2 separate regions of the Homo sapiens genome follow, and region 1 is linked to region 2. The links come from fine-mapping of genetic effects on gene expression. Tissue or cell type: tibial nerve. Region 2 holds a variant in brackets; the other region holds the start of a gene. All regions are shown on one strand. Distances are from middle to middle.

Region 1 (8,178 bases), 350 kb before region 2:
CCACCAAAAAAATACGAAAACCAGTCAGGCGTGGCGGCGCGCACCTGCAATCGCAGGCACTCGGCAGGCTGAGGCAGGAGAATCAGGCAGCAGTACCGTCCAGCTTCAGCTCGGCATCAGAGGGAGACCGTGGGGAGAGGGAGAGGGCGAGGGCGAGGGCGAGGGCGAGGGCGAGGGAGAGGGAGACAATGAGACTCCATCTTAAATAAATAAATAAATAAATAAATAAATAAGACCCTTGATTCTTACCTCACACCACCCATAAAGTTAGTTTGAGTGTATCATAGACCTAAACAAAAAGCCAAAACTATACAATTCTAGAAGAAAATATAGGAGAAAATATTTGCAACCTTACCTTAAGGTAGGCAATCAAGGAAAATGTTTAATAAATTGGACGCTGTCACAATTAGAAACTTTGGCTCTTTGAAAGATAACATTAGGAAAATGAAAAAACAGGTGGGTGTGGTGGCTCACACCTGTATTCCCAGCATTTTGGGAAGCTGAGGCAGTAGGATCACTTGAGCCCAGGAGTTCAAGACCAGCCTGGGCAACATAGCGAGATCTCATCTCTACTAAAGATAAAAAATTGAAATAAAAATAATTAGCCAGGCATAGTGGCGTGTGCCTATCATCCCAGCTACTCAGAAGGCTGAGGTGGGAGGATCACTTGAGCCCAGGAGTTCGAGATTGCATTTAGCTACAATTATACCACTGCACTGCAGCCTGGGAGACAGCATGAGACCCTGTCTCATGGAAAAAAAGAAAATGAAAAGACAAACCATAGAATGCTATGGGCTCTCATGCATTGCTGGTGGTAATGTCAAATAGTATGACCACTTTGAAAAACAATTTCTTACCATGCTGCCAGGCGCAGTGGCTCAAACCTGTAATCCCAGCACTTTGGGAGGCCAAGGCGGATGGATCACAAGGTTAGGAGTTCAAGACCAGCCTGACCAACATGGTGAAACCCCATCTCTCCCAAAATACAAAAATTAGTTGGGTGTGGTGGCGCAAGCCTGTAATCCCAGCTACTCAGGAGACTGAGGCAGGAGAATCACTTGAACCCAGGAGACGGAGGTTGCAGTGAGCCAAGATTGCACCACTGCACTCCAGCCTGGGCGACAGAGCGAGACTCCATCCCAAAAAAAAAAAAAAAAAAAAAAGTCTGGGTGTGGTGGCTCACGCCTGTAATCGCAGCACTTTGGGAGGCCGAGGCGGATGGATCACGAGGTCAGGAGATCGAGACCATCCTGGCTAACACAGTGAAACCCTGTCTCTGATAAAAATACAAAAAAAATAGCCGGGCTTGGTAGCAGGCGCCTGTAGTCCCAGCTACATGGGAGTCTGAGGCAGGAGAATGGCCTGAACCCGGGAGGCGGAGCTTGCAGTGAGCTGAGATGGTGCCGCTGCGCTCCAGCCTAGGCTACAGAGCAAGACTCCGTCTCAAAAAAATTAATTAATTAATTAATTAAATAAATTTTTTTAAAAAAAGACTCACCATGCAACCAAGCCATCCCGCCTACTTCCAGGCATTTTATCCGAGAGAAATGAAACATATGTATATTCAAAAAACTTTCTAGGAAGGCTCAAGTCAGTTTTATTCACAATGCCTTCAAACTGGAAACAACCCAGACATCCAACAACAACCCCGCATCCTCCTTTGGGGTCCTGAGAGGGTGCCTCCCCACCAGCCCAGCTTGGCCAACTTTAGTCCATCCATCAATGTCCAAATGGACAAACAGCCTGTGGCATATCCATACAATGGAATACTACTCACCAGTGGTAAGGAGGGAACTTGATACACACTTTAGTAAATACCTGAAATTTTAGGTTGCTTCAGTATCCATTTTGAATATAGGGTTAACAATTTCATACTAGAAGCAGGGCTTAGTCACCTTGGATACAGTTTCCAGCTCTCTGCTGGAAACAGTATCTCAACACATTCCGTCCAGATATCTGGTCCTAGGTAGCCACCTCCTGGTAACTGCCTCCTTGTGGGATGTATACATACAACCAACTAGACTCACCCCACTGACGCCCACACCCTGCATGGACTATGCAGATATGTCTCAGTGACCACCCCTAAGTCACAAGGTGGCCCCACAGGACTCCAGTTCGCTCCTCTAGGTGAACCAATTAGAGCTCCCCTTGGGAAAACTGCTTGAGTAATGCCCTGCACTCCAATAAAAGCCTCAGCCCACAGGTCCGTCTCTCTCTGGCTCCCCCCACCCCCACAACGATTGTGTACAGTGTCCCCAAGACATTCCCGACGGCCCTCAGTGTGCCCTCTTCCCCTGTGGATCTGTAAGTAATAGGACCACTTCTGTTAGTTCCTGTGTTTCGTTGTGTTGCCTGCTCTGTGTCATGCCTGACTGAGACGCTCAAACGTAACGTTTTCCCTGGTCAGGGCTTTCCCTAGAGAGCAGCTATCTTGGTAGGAATAAACTAGATACAGGTCAGACAAGAAGCACAAGGAGATCTGCCAGGATAAATATGTCTCCTGGGAGAGGGACACCCGGTCACAGGTCAGCCAGGATACAGAGGTGCCCCATGAAAGGCCCACGGCAAACACCCACGCCCAAATCCCAGGAGCCCTGTCAGGGCAGAGTTGGCCTTTACAGTGGCTCTCCAGGGAGGTCTCAAGACCAAGGTAGAGGAAAATACAACACACACACGCCACACGGGCGACGCTCAGCTGCATGGTGCCAAGCGAAGAAAGCCAGGCACAAAAGACCACACGGTGAATGGTTCTCCTTGCATGCAATTGCGAGAGAGGCAAAGGGCAGTGACAGAAATCAGAGGAGCAGTTGTCTGGAACCAGGGCGGAGGGGAGGTGAGGGGTTAGCTGCAGAGGGGCAGGAGGGTACTTTTGGGAGGAGAGGACTTCTTGAACTCGGGGGGAGACTAGCCTGGTGGTTTCGCGTGTCAGAAGTCATGGAACTGAGCCGGGCATGGTGGCGGGGCCTGTGGTCCCAGCTGCTCGGGAGGCTGAGGCAGGAGGATCGCTGGAGCCTAGAAGTTCAAGGCTGCGGTGAGCCGAGATCGTGCCACCGCACTCCAGCCTGGGCGACAGAGACCCTGTATCTAAAAAATAAAGGAAAAAATTCATGGAACTGTATACTTCCATGTACTGTACTTAAATTTCCTGGTATTTATCGTATGTATAGAATACCTCACATCTTAATAAAGTCGTCGTTTTTAGTGTGAGGGGTGCTATGGGGCACGGAGGGCGATCCGGCTGCCGACCCTCGGCGGCGGCGCGGGAGTGCGAGGCCGGCGGGGAGGTCGGGTCCTGCGGCCTCGCCGGGGCCCCTGCAGCGCTCTCCCGCCAGGGGGCAGCGTCGGGCCGGCGGCGCGGGCGGGAAGCTCCAGCGGCCGGGACGCGGTGGTGCCGTCTTCCCCCTGCGGTGAGGGACCGCGTCGCGCCACCCCGCTCTCAGCGCAGCCCGCAGCGGCGAGGCCACCGGGTGGGACACGGGTGCCCGCGCGTCGCGCCGCAGCTCGCGGGGACCTGGCGCCCCGTCCCGGGAGGGGATCTGGCCCCCGGGCGCCGGCTCTCCGTCCACGCGGCGTCCTCCCTGCAGCCCGCTAGGGCCGCTCGCCCGTCGCCGCCTGCGGAACGCGGAGGGGCAGCACGGCCACGCCCGGCCACTCGAACCTGCTCCCCGGCGCCGCGTGACCGTGTCAGGTCCCCGTCGGCCTCGCCGTGCCGACCCCGGGCGCCTCCACAGTGGCTCGGAGGCCGCTGCTGCCCGGATGCCCGGGTTCCACGAGGCTCTCCCAGCCCGACAAGCCCGCCGATCCCACGGGCACGGGCGGAGGAGAGGGAACCGCCGCGCCCGCCCCGCGCGCCGTCGCCGACCCCGGTGGGTCGCGCTTCCCCGCGCACGCCGCGCTCTGGCGCGGGGAGAGGCCCCTCGGGGTCCGCCCGGGTCAGCGTCCCGCGGGGGTGGCGGCCGTTCGCTCAGCCTCCTCTCGACTTCCCTTTCCTGTCAGGGCTGCTGGGGCTGACAGGCTCCCGGGCAACCACGCCGGGGAACCCCTCACGCCCGCCGATCGCTGCGGGGCTCAGCAGCCGCCCCGTGCGCTGAGTCCCCTGTCATGAGTGACTCCATTGCGAGGCGTTTCGGGCCACGAAGCAGGACCGGGGGCCGCACTCCGGGTCCCCGCCCTGCCCTCGCCGACCTCCCGCGCGTGGAAGGGGGACGGCGGCGGCGGAGCTCCCCGCCACGGAGAACCCCGAAATGGTCATTTCGAACGAGAGGAGTGTGGCCTGGGGTGTCTGGTTTAACAGCCCCCCGCGCCGAAAGGCTGTTCGCCGAGGAGGGGCCGCCGGGGAGGGAGCCCGAGCGCGGCGGGGCGAGACCGGTCCCCGCCCGGCGTTGCCCGGCCCGAGGGACGGCGGCGCCCCCAGGACCCTCCCCAGCGCGGCCCCAGCTCGCTCCGGGACCGCGGGGCCAGGCCGGGCGGGAGCGCGGGGACGTACACGGCGGCCCCGCCCGCGCGCTCCTCCTCCCTCCCGGCCCGCCCTGCGCCGGCGGCGGCGGCCCCAGTCTCCGCGCTGCTGAGGCGCGCCCGGCCGCTCCCACGGCCTCCCCTCCGCCCTGCGGTCCCGCCGCCTCCGGGGCCTCCTGGGACCCTGGCCCTCGCCGGGCAGGACGCCGCCAGCGCTGAAGGCGCAGCCCGGAGGCCGCGCGGGTGAGTCGGTGCGCAGCCCCAGCGGCTCCAGAGGAGCGGGTGCGGGGAGGGCGAGCGGACCAAGTCGGCCGCGTTCCCACCTTGCGCGCAGCCGGGAGACCAGCAGGCCCAGCCTCTAGGGAGGAGGGCAGGGGAGCTGGGGGCCGCCCCCCGCATTCTCGCAGGCACCTGTCCCTAGGCCGGGGTCCGCTGGCTCGAAGCACTGACCCGCCCCGGACCTAGGGGGACGGAGGCAGCGGTGACATTTGCCCAGGAAGGGCGGCAGTGGGTAAACTCCACTCCAGGGCACGGGTCTGGGCGCAGGTTGAGGCCTGGGGTTGAATCTGCTTCTGCTAGAGGCCAGTGTTCTCAGGGAGGCCCATAACCCGACTGGGTCTCAGTTCCCCCTGGTATGAAACAGCAACAGGGCAAGAGGAGGAAACCATGCCACGCTGCAAAGCTCTGAGCACGAAGCCGAGAAGAATCTCGGCTCCCGGCCTCGGGGGCTGCACTTCGGGCCAGGCCTGCACTCCCAGGATAAGAGGATGGCCTCCTGCCCCAGGGGTGGCATGGGGGCGCGCAAAAAGCAAAGGTGACCCTGCCAGGGAGCACCCAGCGCTCCGGTTGGTGGTCATGGGGTCTTTGCGTGGGACTCACAGTGTGGCCGGGAAAGTTCTGTAATGAGGACATTTCTCATCATTCCTTCTTCTCAAAAGTCATTCGTCAGCCCCAGACACCTTTGCCTCGGAAAACTGAGAACTACTTTCAAAATCGTCAACACCCCCATCTCCTGCTACAGAGCGGAGTCCCCACTTTGCAGAGGCGCACTGCAAGGTCGCGGGTGGTTAAATGGTGCGCCCTCCTTGATGAAGATGCCTTGTTCTCTTTCACTCTCTATGTGTGTTTAATGTTGTGTGTTGCGTTCTCTGTGAAGCGAAGGATAAACACGGGCCCTTTCAGGCAACCGAAGGAAGAAGGCGGCCAGCATCAGATCTTCCCGTGCTTCAAGGTGGAGCACCCTGCAGGGCTTACTGCAGCGCTCAGGGTCAAAGTGAGGATGCAGTGCGGCACCAAAAGGCAAATGGACTCTGGAGAGCCACTCTCACCTTGTACCCCTGGAGTAGACCCCGAGGACTGGAGGACTGGAACAAGATCTTAGTCCTGAGGGCGGGAGAAGCAGCCTTTGGTGGTTGCACAGGGGCCCGGCTTTTCCCGAAGTCTTAAAGCCTGCTCCAAATGCCAGATTCAGACAAAGGGGCCGAACCTTGGGCCCGCCGCCTTCTCCCATAAGCGGCAACCCAGCAGCTTTGCCAGGAAGTTTACATGTGAAGGTACGGACCTTTCTTGGAATGAGCCACACCTGATGGCCCTGCCACTCCGGACGGCGCTCGTTCACGGCTGTCCCTGGAGCAGACACGGTTCTGCGCACACACCTGGGCGCCGGAGAAACAGGGCACCCAAAGCGGGCCCAGGCCCTCGGACTCAGCGAGCTGGACACGTGTCCCCATCACCCGCGGCTGGCGGGAGCAGTGTTTCTACTCCCTTCCCTCCCCTCCTCCCGCCCCGCAGATGTGCTGTCTTTCCCGGCCTCCCCCCGCGCCCAGCACAGTGGTTTCTGCTTGGCTGTTCCCCTGTCTCTGAGATGGTCTCTCCCTGCTGCTTGCCCTACACATTCTCCCACACAGGCGCGCGGGATGCCCCTGTCGGCGTGGTTGTCAATGCCTGCTCCCCTGCCCCCCAGTCCAATCTCCACGACTCTGGGCCCTGTCGCTTCATCCTAAAGCCTTCCGCTCACGAGCCCTCCCGACGACCGACCCCCAGGAGGCTACTGGAGATGCAGGATTTGGACCCGTGCTGGACCCGCACCCGGACAGATCCCTCTGAATGAATGAATGAATTAATGAGCAGGCTGCATCCTGATTAGGTTAAGGTGGGTGGTTGCCATGCTTGGCGTTGGCTCTGTCCCCTGGGATAAAAGGCGAGAGGCAGCCACATGGACAGCTCCTCCAGTGGGGTCTCAGACTGGAGAGACGCCAGCGGGCGGGGGTCGTTCCCTGGAGCTCCCGCATTTGTTATGGTCGATGCCCCACTACGTTGTCACCTTCTCCGGAGGACCTCCTGCTCTGTCCTTGACAGATGGGCCCCAGTGGGCCCACCCAGGCTGGAGATGAATCTCAAAGGGACTCCATGCCTGGGAGACCTCAGCCAAGCAGGGCAGAGAAATAATCAGACAACAGTCAGCGCATGGCGCCTGCAGAGTTTTGCACAGGGTCCTTCAGAAGGAGGGTTAGGGAAGACTTCTTGGGGGTTAGGGCAGTTAAGCAAGATGGATAAAGAAAGCAACCACTTATGTCTGCATATTTTCTTCATTTCATCTTCACAACAGCCCTGAGATAGGTACTTGTTTTAAAGCTGAGGTATAAATTGGGGTTCAGAGAGATTGAGTGCTTTCACCATGAACAAGTGACAGAGAGCAACGACTTGAACCGGGTTACCTGATGCCACCGCTGGTCTTAACCTCCATGTTATTAGCGTATTGGGTAAGTGAAACCGTGTGAGCCAAGAAGCTGGGGTGAGAAACAGCACGGAATAGAGGAGAGGGCTGCAGAAAGGCGTGATGTTTCTGGAGCACCGAATTCTACTCACGAACACAGGAGTGGAGGCGGGAAGGGGACACTGGAAGCTATGGAGGGCCTTGTCAGCCACAGTAAGGAATGTGGACCTGGTCCTCAGGGTGGTGAGGGGATGGCCCCCCATCCAGAGGTTTCTCACAGGGGAGTGATTCGGCCTGTCTCTGCCGCAGTCAGAAGGAAGGATGCAGTGAGAGAGGGAAAGTGGAGAGGCGGATGGCGGTGCAGTCTACTCCAGGTCATGCTTCTTACCATCTCCCTCATTATTCATCCACAGAAAATGATTGCTGTTATATGACACACTGGTTAACAAAGGAGGGGGCTGTTTGCAAACAGAAACAACCAACCCAGGGCCTCCAGCCATCCAAAGATTCTGCACAGCCAGCCACCCCTAAGGCTAAGAAATCCCAGGTACATGCACACCAGTCACAGCATACCTGGACTCAGACAATGACAGTGGAGAATGAGGAACAAGAGCTGGGTTCAAGGAATAATTAGCAAGCAACGTTGGCATTACGTAGTGCAGGGACAAAGGAGGAGGGAGATAGCCCGTGGGATTCTGGACTAAATTGGGCAAATGGTATGACATGGTTAGGCTTTTGTGTCCCCGCCCCAATCTCATCTTGAATTGTAATCCCCAAGTGTTGAGGGAAAGACCCGGTGGGAGAGGATCGGATCATGGGGTGGTTTCCCCCACGCTGTTCTTCGGATAGTTAGGGAGTTCTCATGAGATCTGATGGTTCCATAAGCGTCCGTCATTTCCTCCACTCACACTCTCTCTTGCCACCTTGTGAAGAGGTGCCTGCTTCCCCTTCCGCTATGACTGTAAGTTTCCTGAAACTTCCCCAGCAATGTAGAACTGTGAGTCAAT
Region 2 (8,178 bases):
GAGAGACCCCAGTATCTGTATATGAATTCCAGGAATCTGACCAGAACAAATGATTTTCCAGAGAGTGGGGAGTTTTGCAAATAATTTCCCTCCATGCATTGTCTAAGGGCTAAACCTCTTAGGGACAAGCATTTAGTACAATTTTCAAAAGAGTAAAGACACTCAGTTCCACACGCCTCAAGCCATTTTGTTTACTGAGTCCAAGAATCAAAGCCACTTATTAATGAGATGGCGGTGGTCACTAGGAGTCCCTGTAGGGAACTAAAGAACGTTTTGTTCTAAAGAACATGTTTTCTGGAACAAACTCACACAGTCAGTTGAATTCTTTGGTCATCTTTCCATGACACTCATTTGAAACATTTCCATTTTTGTCTATCTTTATTCCACTGAAATCTTTTTCACTAGGATCAATTATTTTTCATTTAATTTTTTTTTTTTTTTGAGACGAAGTTTCTCTTTGTCAGGCTAGAGTGCAGTGGCATGATCTCAGCTCACTGCAATCTCCACCTACCGGGTTGAAGCAATTCTCCTGCCTCAGCCTCCTGAGTAGCTGGGATTACAGTCATGCACCACCATGCCCAGCTAATTTTGTATTTTTAGTAGAGATGGGGCTTCTCTGGGTTGGCCAGGCTGGTCTCAAACTCCCAACCTCAGGTGATCTGCCCACCTCAGCCTCCCAAAGTGCTGGGATGACAGGCATGAGCCACTGCGCCTGGCCTAATTTAAATTTTTAAATTCAGTTTTGTCCCAGTGCGTGGTCCAAAAGTGCATCCAGTTGTGCAGGATGGGATCAGAGAGTGGAACTGCAGAGAGAGTCTATGTTGGCAGCAATCAGGAAGGGAGGTGCCGCCTGTACTGGGCCTGGAAGATGGCCCTGGCAGCTCAGCTTCCTCCTTCCCAAACAGGCCCTGGGCTGGGAGAGCCTCTTACTTGTTTCTGCCTCAACTCTAGTCTCTGTGCTTCTGCATCCACACCAAAGTGGAGAGAGATCCCCGTCTCTCCAAAGGCTGGGAAGTGCCCTGGTAACCAGGATCCTTACAAGAATTGTGAAGCAAGGCAGTGCCCTTCTCTGTTACCCCCTGGGAAGCCCAGACAGCTGGTTTGGTCTACAAGGGAATCTTTGTTTTTTTCAAGATGGAGTCTTGCTCTGTCACCCAGGCTGGAGTGCAGTGGCGTGATCTCGGCTCACTGCAACCTCCGCCTCCGGGGTTCAAGCAGTTCTCCTGCCTCAGCCTCCCGAGTAGCTGGGATTACAGGAGCCCGCCACCACACCTGGCTAATTTTTGTATTTTTAGTAGAGACAGGGTTTCACCATGTTGGCCAGGCTGGTCTTGAACTCCTGACCTCATGATTCGCCCTCCTCGGCGTCCCAAAGTGCTGGGATTACAGGTGTGAGCCACCGCACCTGGCCTACAAGGGAATCTTAAACTTGACTTGCCACACAACCCTCTGGTACTCTGGCAACTCCTGTGGACTCCTCAGAATCACGTTTTTAAATGTAGAAAATGAAATACATACTCAAGGAGAAGAAATAGACTACATTGAAATACAATTCTATCCATAGACCCCTTGAATCCATGGACTCCAGGTTAAAACGTCCTGAGAGGGCAGCAGATAGTAGTTCAGAATTCAAATGAAAGAGGTAAATGTATTATATAAGGTGAATGTTTTCAGAAGGGCCAACTAAGGTGGAAAATGAAAAGCTAACCTAAGTTTTATTTATATTCAAAATTTCATTTATTATTAAACATAAAAATTTCCAGATCAGCTCTAGTCCATTTACCCCTCTCACATCTTGATATTAACCTCAAAATTCAGGTTTCCCTGGGTGACTTAAAACTCCTTCATTTGTGTATTTAAAGCATTTTGGAATTGATTTTTACTTTCAAATTGTACTGCCTCTTAGAGTAATGAATTTCGTGAGTGTACAACCTTCTGCACGAGGTAATACTCCATTTTATTTATTTAAAGCATATCTCCAGGTGTAAGATGTCCTCCCTTTACTAACATTCTAGTCTATAATCAAACCGATCAGTTATTCATATGAAGATTATAAGTTCAGGCATCACATTTAATCGGTCCCGATATGACTGTTCTAGCTCACACTCCCAGCTCTTGATCTCTTCACTTCCCCTCCTTTAGACTTTGCCTGCCTTGCTGTTTTCTTGAGGCTGAACACTCACAATCAAAGGTAATTTTCCAAATGTGGACATAGAATGTGCGTTGCGTGGCCAGGCACGGTGGCTCACGCCTGTAATCCCAGCACTTTGGGAGGCCAAGGCGGGTAAATCACCTGAGGTCAAGAGTTTGAGACCAACCTGGCCAATATGGCAAAACCCCATCTCTACTAAAAACACAAAAATTAGCCTGGCATGGTGGCGAGTGCCTGTAATCCCAGCTACTAGGGAGGCTGAGGCAGGAGAATCGCTTGAACCCGGGAGGCGGAGGTTGCAGTGAGCGGCTGAGATTGAGCCACTGCACTCCAGCCTGGGCAACAGAGCAAAACTCTGTCTCAAAAAAAAAAAAGAACGTGCGTTATGATATATTATGTCATATCATAGGAAACAGTTGCCATCTGCAAGTTAGGCAATTTGAGGAGAGTTTAATAAAGGGACTAGTACCCAGTGTGGTCACGGCAAAGCGGGAGCCCAGGACTTGCCCCAAAGGGCTGTTACTTCCCTAGGTCTGGGGGAGGCAACAATGATCAGAGCCCAAAAGGTGAGAGTCCACAGGCGCCTGGAGAGGCTACTGGAGAAGCCCTGTGACCCCTGATCTAGGGAAGCAGCTCCCCGAGGAAGCCCTGCAGGAGGAAACCAGGGGAGCAAACACGCGACCACTCTCCCCTCCCTGACGGGGATCCCTGTTTAGGGACCCCAGCTAGAGGACAAAGGACACAGGTCTGCTGAGCAGAGAGCAGGGTGGGAGAGGGTAGACAGTGGATCTGGAAGCTCAGACGGAATACATCCGGCCCGTTGTGATTCTATGCAACAGTGGGATGAATGTTACCTGTTGGTTTTGTTTGTTTGTTTTGTTTTGTGTTGAGACAGATCCTTGCTGTGTCGCCCAGGCTGGAGTTCAGTGGTGTGATCTTGGCTCACTGCAACCTCCGCCTCCCGGATTCAAGTGATTCTCCTGCCTCAGCCTCCCGAGTAGCTGGGATTACAGGCGTGCACCACCACCCCCCGCTAATTTTTTTTTTTCTATTTTTTAAGTAGAGATGGGGTTTCACCATGTTGGCTCAGGCTGGTCTTGATCTCCTGACCTCGAGTGATCTGCCCACCTCGACCTCCTAAAGTGCTGGGATTACAGGCGTGAGCCACTGCATCTGGCCACCTGTTTTTTTTTGTTTGTTTGTTTTTTTAAACGTTGTCACCTGTTTTACTTCTATTATACTTTTCTAATATGTTATGTGCAGTAGCATCTTTGCACTGAATGTTCTTAAAGAGCCCTTAATGACTTATTCTTTGCCTTGCAATGTGTCATACTAGAAATAGAACTTAAATTATTATTTCCCGAATGTGTGACCAGGCATTTACTTACACCAAAACCTAGTCACTTTTCTTACTGTTAACATAGCTTCACACAATTTCCCCACAGAACTATTCCCATCAGTTTGACTTTTTATTACCTAAAATAACTTAATATTAGTCTCACTATTTATAGCCTATTATTTTTATACTCTCCTCCAGATAATGTATACAAGCAACTTAAAGTACAATCTGGACTAATGAGGACTCTTTTAATCACTAGTGATAGAAACCCAACTCAAACTGGTGTAGCAGAGGAATTGATCGGTTCATGTTACTAAAAAGTCTGATTTAAAGCAAGACTGGATCCACGCGCTCAAACAATGCTTTCAGGAATCTGTGTCTCCAACTCTCAGCCCTGCTCTCCCCTGACTCTACCCGGGTGGCATCAAGGGTGCGTTCTGGCAGTTTCGGGCCCATGGCCTGCTAGTCTAGCAATACCAGGGGGAAAGAGGCCTCTTTCAAAACAGTGCAGCAAAAGTCCCAGGACGGAACCCCCTTGTGTGACCTGGGGTCAAGTGCCTCTTCCGCAATCAGTCACTGTGGTTGGCGGGTGGGATGTGCCTATTTTTCTGGACTGACTCATATGCCGATTCCTGAAGCTCCACCCAAACGACATGGGCTCCTGTTGATGGAGTAGGCCCTAAAGAAAAGCAGGTGCTTTCATCAGAAGAGGGGTAGAGGTTGTACAGAGAAAAATCATGCTCATCTTCTTCCCAAGGTTAGTACTGATTCCTTAGAAGAGTTACTGTTTATACTTCATCCACAGAAGACCGTTGGTCTCCATCCCTCATTCCTGGTTTCTAAGCAACTCCCCGTTTACCAGAAAACAGCACTTGCAGTCCTAGAATATGTGTAGTTGCTTTTAGAAAGTAAAAAGGTTTTTGAAAGACTTTTCATTTTGTTCTGTACCAAGAAAAATTCTTCTGCCTTGGGATCCTGTTGATCGGTGACCTTACCCCCAACCCTGTGCTCTCTGAAACATGTGCTGTGTCCACTCAGGGTTAAATGGATTAAGGGCGGTGCAAGATGTGCTTTGTTAAACAGATGCTTGAAGGCAGCATGCTCGTTAAGAGTCATCACCACTCCCTAATCTCAAGTACCCAGGGACACAAACACTGCGGAAGGCCCCAGGGTCCTCTGCCTAGGAAAACCAGAGACCTTTGTTCACTTGTTTATTTGCTGACCTTCCCTCCACTATTGTCCTATGACCCTGCCAAATCCCCCTCTGCGAGAAACACCCAAGAATGATCAATAAAAAAATAAAATAAAATAAAATAATTACCAAAAAAAAAAAGGTTTTTGAAAATGTAAATAGATTACCTATAACAAACACACACGTTTCCCCATAACAGAGTTTCAATAGAATAAAATTCCCTCTTAATAGCCTGGTTGTCTTTTCCTGTAATTGCTTGTGTTTCCTGAGGAGTTCATTACAAAGACCAGCTGACTTGTCGAGTTGCATCGCAGTGCAGAGAGCGCCGGAAGGAGAGAGAAGCTCACACTTTAGATCCAGCTCTGTTGCTCACAAAGGGCCTTGTTTGTCCATGAGTAAAATGAGG[T/C]TGGACAAGAATTCCAAAGTTGATTCCAGCAATAAGAACTTAGAGTTCTATTCTGAAATATGTATCATCAAAGAGATAGGAGGGCAGGCATACCACTCATTTAGGACAGAGAGGTTAAGGTCCTCAGCCTGCAGCCATGGGCCACAGATGGGAGGAAGAGTTGCAACCCCAAATTTCACAGGCTTAAAGAAGTTTATGTGCATTAAAGGACGCAATCAACAGAGGGATAAGACAAACCATGAGACGGGAGAAAACATTTGTGAATCACACATCTGATAAGGAGTTAATATCCAGAATATATAAAGAACTTTTATAACTCAACAACAACAAAAACAACCTCATTTAAAAATGGGCAAAGGGCTTAAGTAGACAATTCTTCAAAAAAGATAAACAAATGACTAACAAACCTACGAAAAGATGCTCAACAGCACTAATCATTAGGAAAATGCAAATCAAAATCTTAATGAGATATCACCTTATACCTATGAGGATGGCTGCTATAAAACACACACACAAGGCTTGGCGCAGTGGCTCATGCCTGTAACCCCAGCACTTTGGGAGGCCAAGGCGGGTGGATCACGAGGTCAAGAGATGGAGACCATCCTGGCCAACATGGTGAAACCCCGTCTCTGCTAAAAATACAAAAATTAGCCGGGCGTGGTGGCTGGCACCTGTAATCCCAGCTACTCAGGAGGCTGAGGCAGGAGGATCACTTGAACCCGGGAGGCGGAGGTTGCAGTGAGCCAAGATCACACCACTGCACTCCAGCCTGGTGATAAAGGGAGACTCCGTCTCAAAAAAAAAAAAAACCAAAACAAACAAAAACAAAACAAAAACAAAAACAAAAAAACATACACACAAACCTGAAAGCAACAAGTGTTAGAAAAGATGTAGAGAACCTGGAAGTCCTGTGCACTACTGGTGGGAATATAAAATGGTGCTGCCAGTATAGAAAACAGTGTGATAGCTCCCTAAAACCTTATAATAAGAATTACCACAGAACCCAGCAATTCTGCTTATGGGAATATACCCACAAGCATTGAAAGCATCCAGGGGCTGTGGAGAGGGAGAAATAAATGTTTAGTGTATGGAGAGTTCATTCTGAAAGATGAAACACTCCTGGAGATTGAACAACAGTGGGGATACACTTAACACTGTTGAACTGTACTGTTACAAATGGTTAAGATGGTAATTTTTTGTTACATGTATTTTACCACGATTTTTTTTTTTTTTTGAGACAGAGTTTCACTCTTATCGCCCAGGCTGCAGTGCAATGGCGCGATCTCGGCTCACTGCAACCTCCGCCTCCCGGGTTCAAGCAATTCTCCTGCTTCGGCCTCCTGAGTAGCTGGGATTACAGGTGCCCACCACCACACCCGGCTAATTTTTGTTTTTAGTAGAGATGGGGGTTTTACGATATTGGCCAGGCTGGTCTCGAACTCCTGACCTCGAGCAATCTGCCCGCCTCGGCCTCCCAAATTGCTGGGATTACAGGCGCGAGCCACTATGCCTGTCCTACCACAATTTTTAAAAGAACTTTAAAGCTGGAAGGGAACTTAGAGATCTTTTAGTCCAAACCCTTTGTTTTACAGAGAGGAAAACTGAGGCCCTAAGTGTTACATTATTTACACAAGAACAGAACACAGTAGCAGAGACGGAAGCTCCATCTCTCAGCGCTGCTGTGATATCTTAATTTTACATGTCAGCTTAGCTGGGCCACAATGCCGAGATATGTGGTGGGGTTTTTTAATAGAAAAAAAATGAACCCATTGACTTTTCAGAGCAGTATGTGGTTAAACATTATTCCGGATGTCTTTGTGAGGATATTTTTGGATAAGATTAACATTTAAATCAGTGGACTTTAAGCAAAGCAGATTACCCTCCATAATGCGAGTGGGCCTCATCCAGTCTGCTGAAGGCCTGAAACAAAAAGACTGCTCCCTGGAGGAAGAGGAAGTTCTCCAGCCTGCTAGCTCACGCTGCAGATTTTGGACTAGCCCACCTCCATAATCTATGTGAACCAATTCCTTAAAAATATCTCTTTCTCTGTATATATGTCCTTGAGAATCCTAACATATCTGCCTTTTCTTTTTCTGACCAATTGTGACTTTTAAATAAACATCACTTGGCTGAGTGCGGTGACTCACGCCTGTAATTCCAGCACTTTGGGAGGCCGAGGCAGGCAGATCACTTGAGGTTGGGAGTTCGAGACCAGCCTGACCAACATGGAGAAACCCCATCTCTACTAAAAATCCAAAAAAAAAAAAAAAAAAAAAAATTAGCCAGGCGTGGTGGTGCATGCCTGTCATCCCAGCTACTTGGGAGGCTTAGGCAGGAGAATTGCTTGAACCAAGGAGGCGGAGGTTGCAGTGAGCCGAGATTGCGCCACTGCACTCCAGCCCGGGCAACAAGAGCAAAACTCCGTCTCAAAAAAAATAAATAAAATAAAATAAACATCACCTGACATTTGTGTGATGCAACAGCAACCATGCAGACTTCTCTTTGGTCACAAGAGAGGAAAAGAAACACAATAAAGGAGTCACAATAAAGGGGTCACAATCAAGGGGTCACAATCAGAGGGTCACACTGTTAGCACTAATGCAGGGGTTAATATTAGCATCACTGATGGGAGAACAACCAGAATATGTCTTCCACCATGGTGCGCACGAAGCACCCAGCAGCACTTAGGATATATCCTTGCTAAAAGTGTCTAACTTGAATTAAATCAAATGTTAACATCTCATTGATCATTTATAGGAAATAAAGGACACAGAAGAACCAGCTAGAACACTGTAACTGCAGCCATAAAAATGAACGAAATGTGGCCGGGCGCGGTGGCTCACGTCTGTAATCCCAGCACTTTAGGAGCCTGAGGCAGGTGGACCACTTGAGGCCAGCAGTGTGAGACCAGCCTGGCCAACATGGCGAAACCCCGTCTCACCTGAAAATACAAAAATTAGCCGGGCATGGTGGCGCGCACCTGTAATCCCAGCTACTCAGGAGGCTGAGGCAGGAGAATCGCTTGAACCAGGGAGACGGAGGTTGCAGTGAGTTGAGATCGCATCACTTCACTTCAGTCTAGGTGGCAG

The links. PIP is the estimated chance that this variant, and not a neighbour inherited with it, causes the effect.
Region 1: it holds the start of PIGZ, and the variant in region 2 is fine-mapped to the expression of PIGZ in tibial nerve (GTEx, PIP above 0.99).

What each region holds. Positions count from the first base shown.
Region 1 is chr3:196,965,207-196,973,384 of GRCh38, reverse strand. It overlaps PIGZ (phosphatidylinositol glycan anchor biosynthesis class Z (Gwada blood group)), which reads left to right and starts at 4,552. Exons shown (of 3, transcript NM_025163.4): 1 at 4,552-4,698. It overlaps LOC124906255 (collagen alpha-1(I) chain-like), which reads right to left and starts at 4,252. Exons shown (of 3, transcript XM_047449439.1): 1 at 4,136-4,252; 2 at 3,173-3,989; 3 at 1,574-3,084. The coding sequence starts at 4,252. The coding sequence ends at 3,174. RefSeq lists silencers at 3,213-3,432, 3,443-3,762, 3,873-3,932, 4,043-4,102, 4,113-4,322 and 1 more and enhancers at 3,368-3,903, 3,904-4,439, 4,440-4,975.
Region 2 is chr3:196,616,238-196,624,415 of GRCh38, reverse strand. No RefSeq gene overlaps it. Among named protein-coding and RNA genes, the nearest start is that of LINC01063, 12 kb to the left of the region's middle. RefSeq lists an enhancer at 4,133-4,202. The variant T/C (reference allele first, on the strand shown) is at 5,090.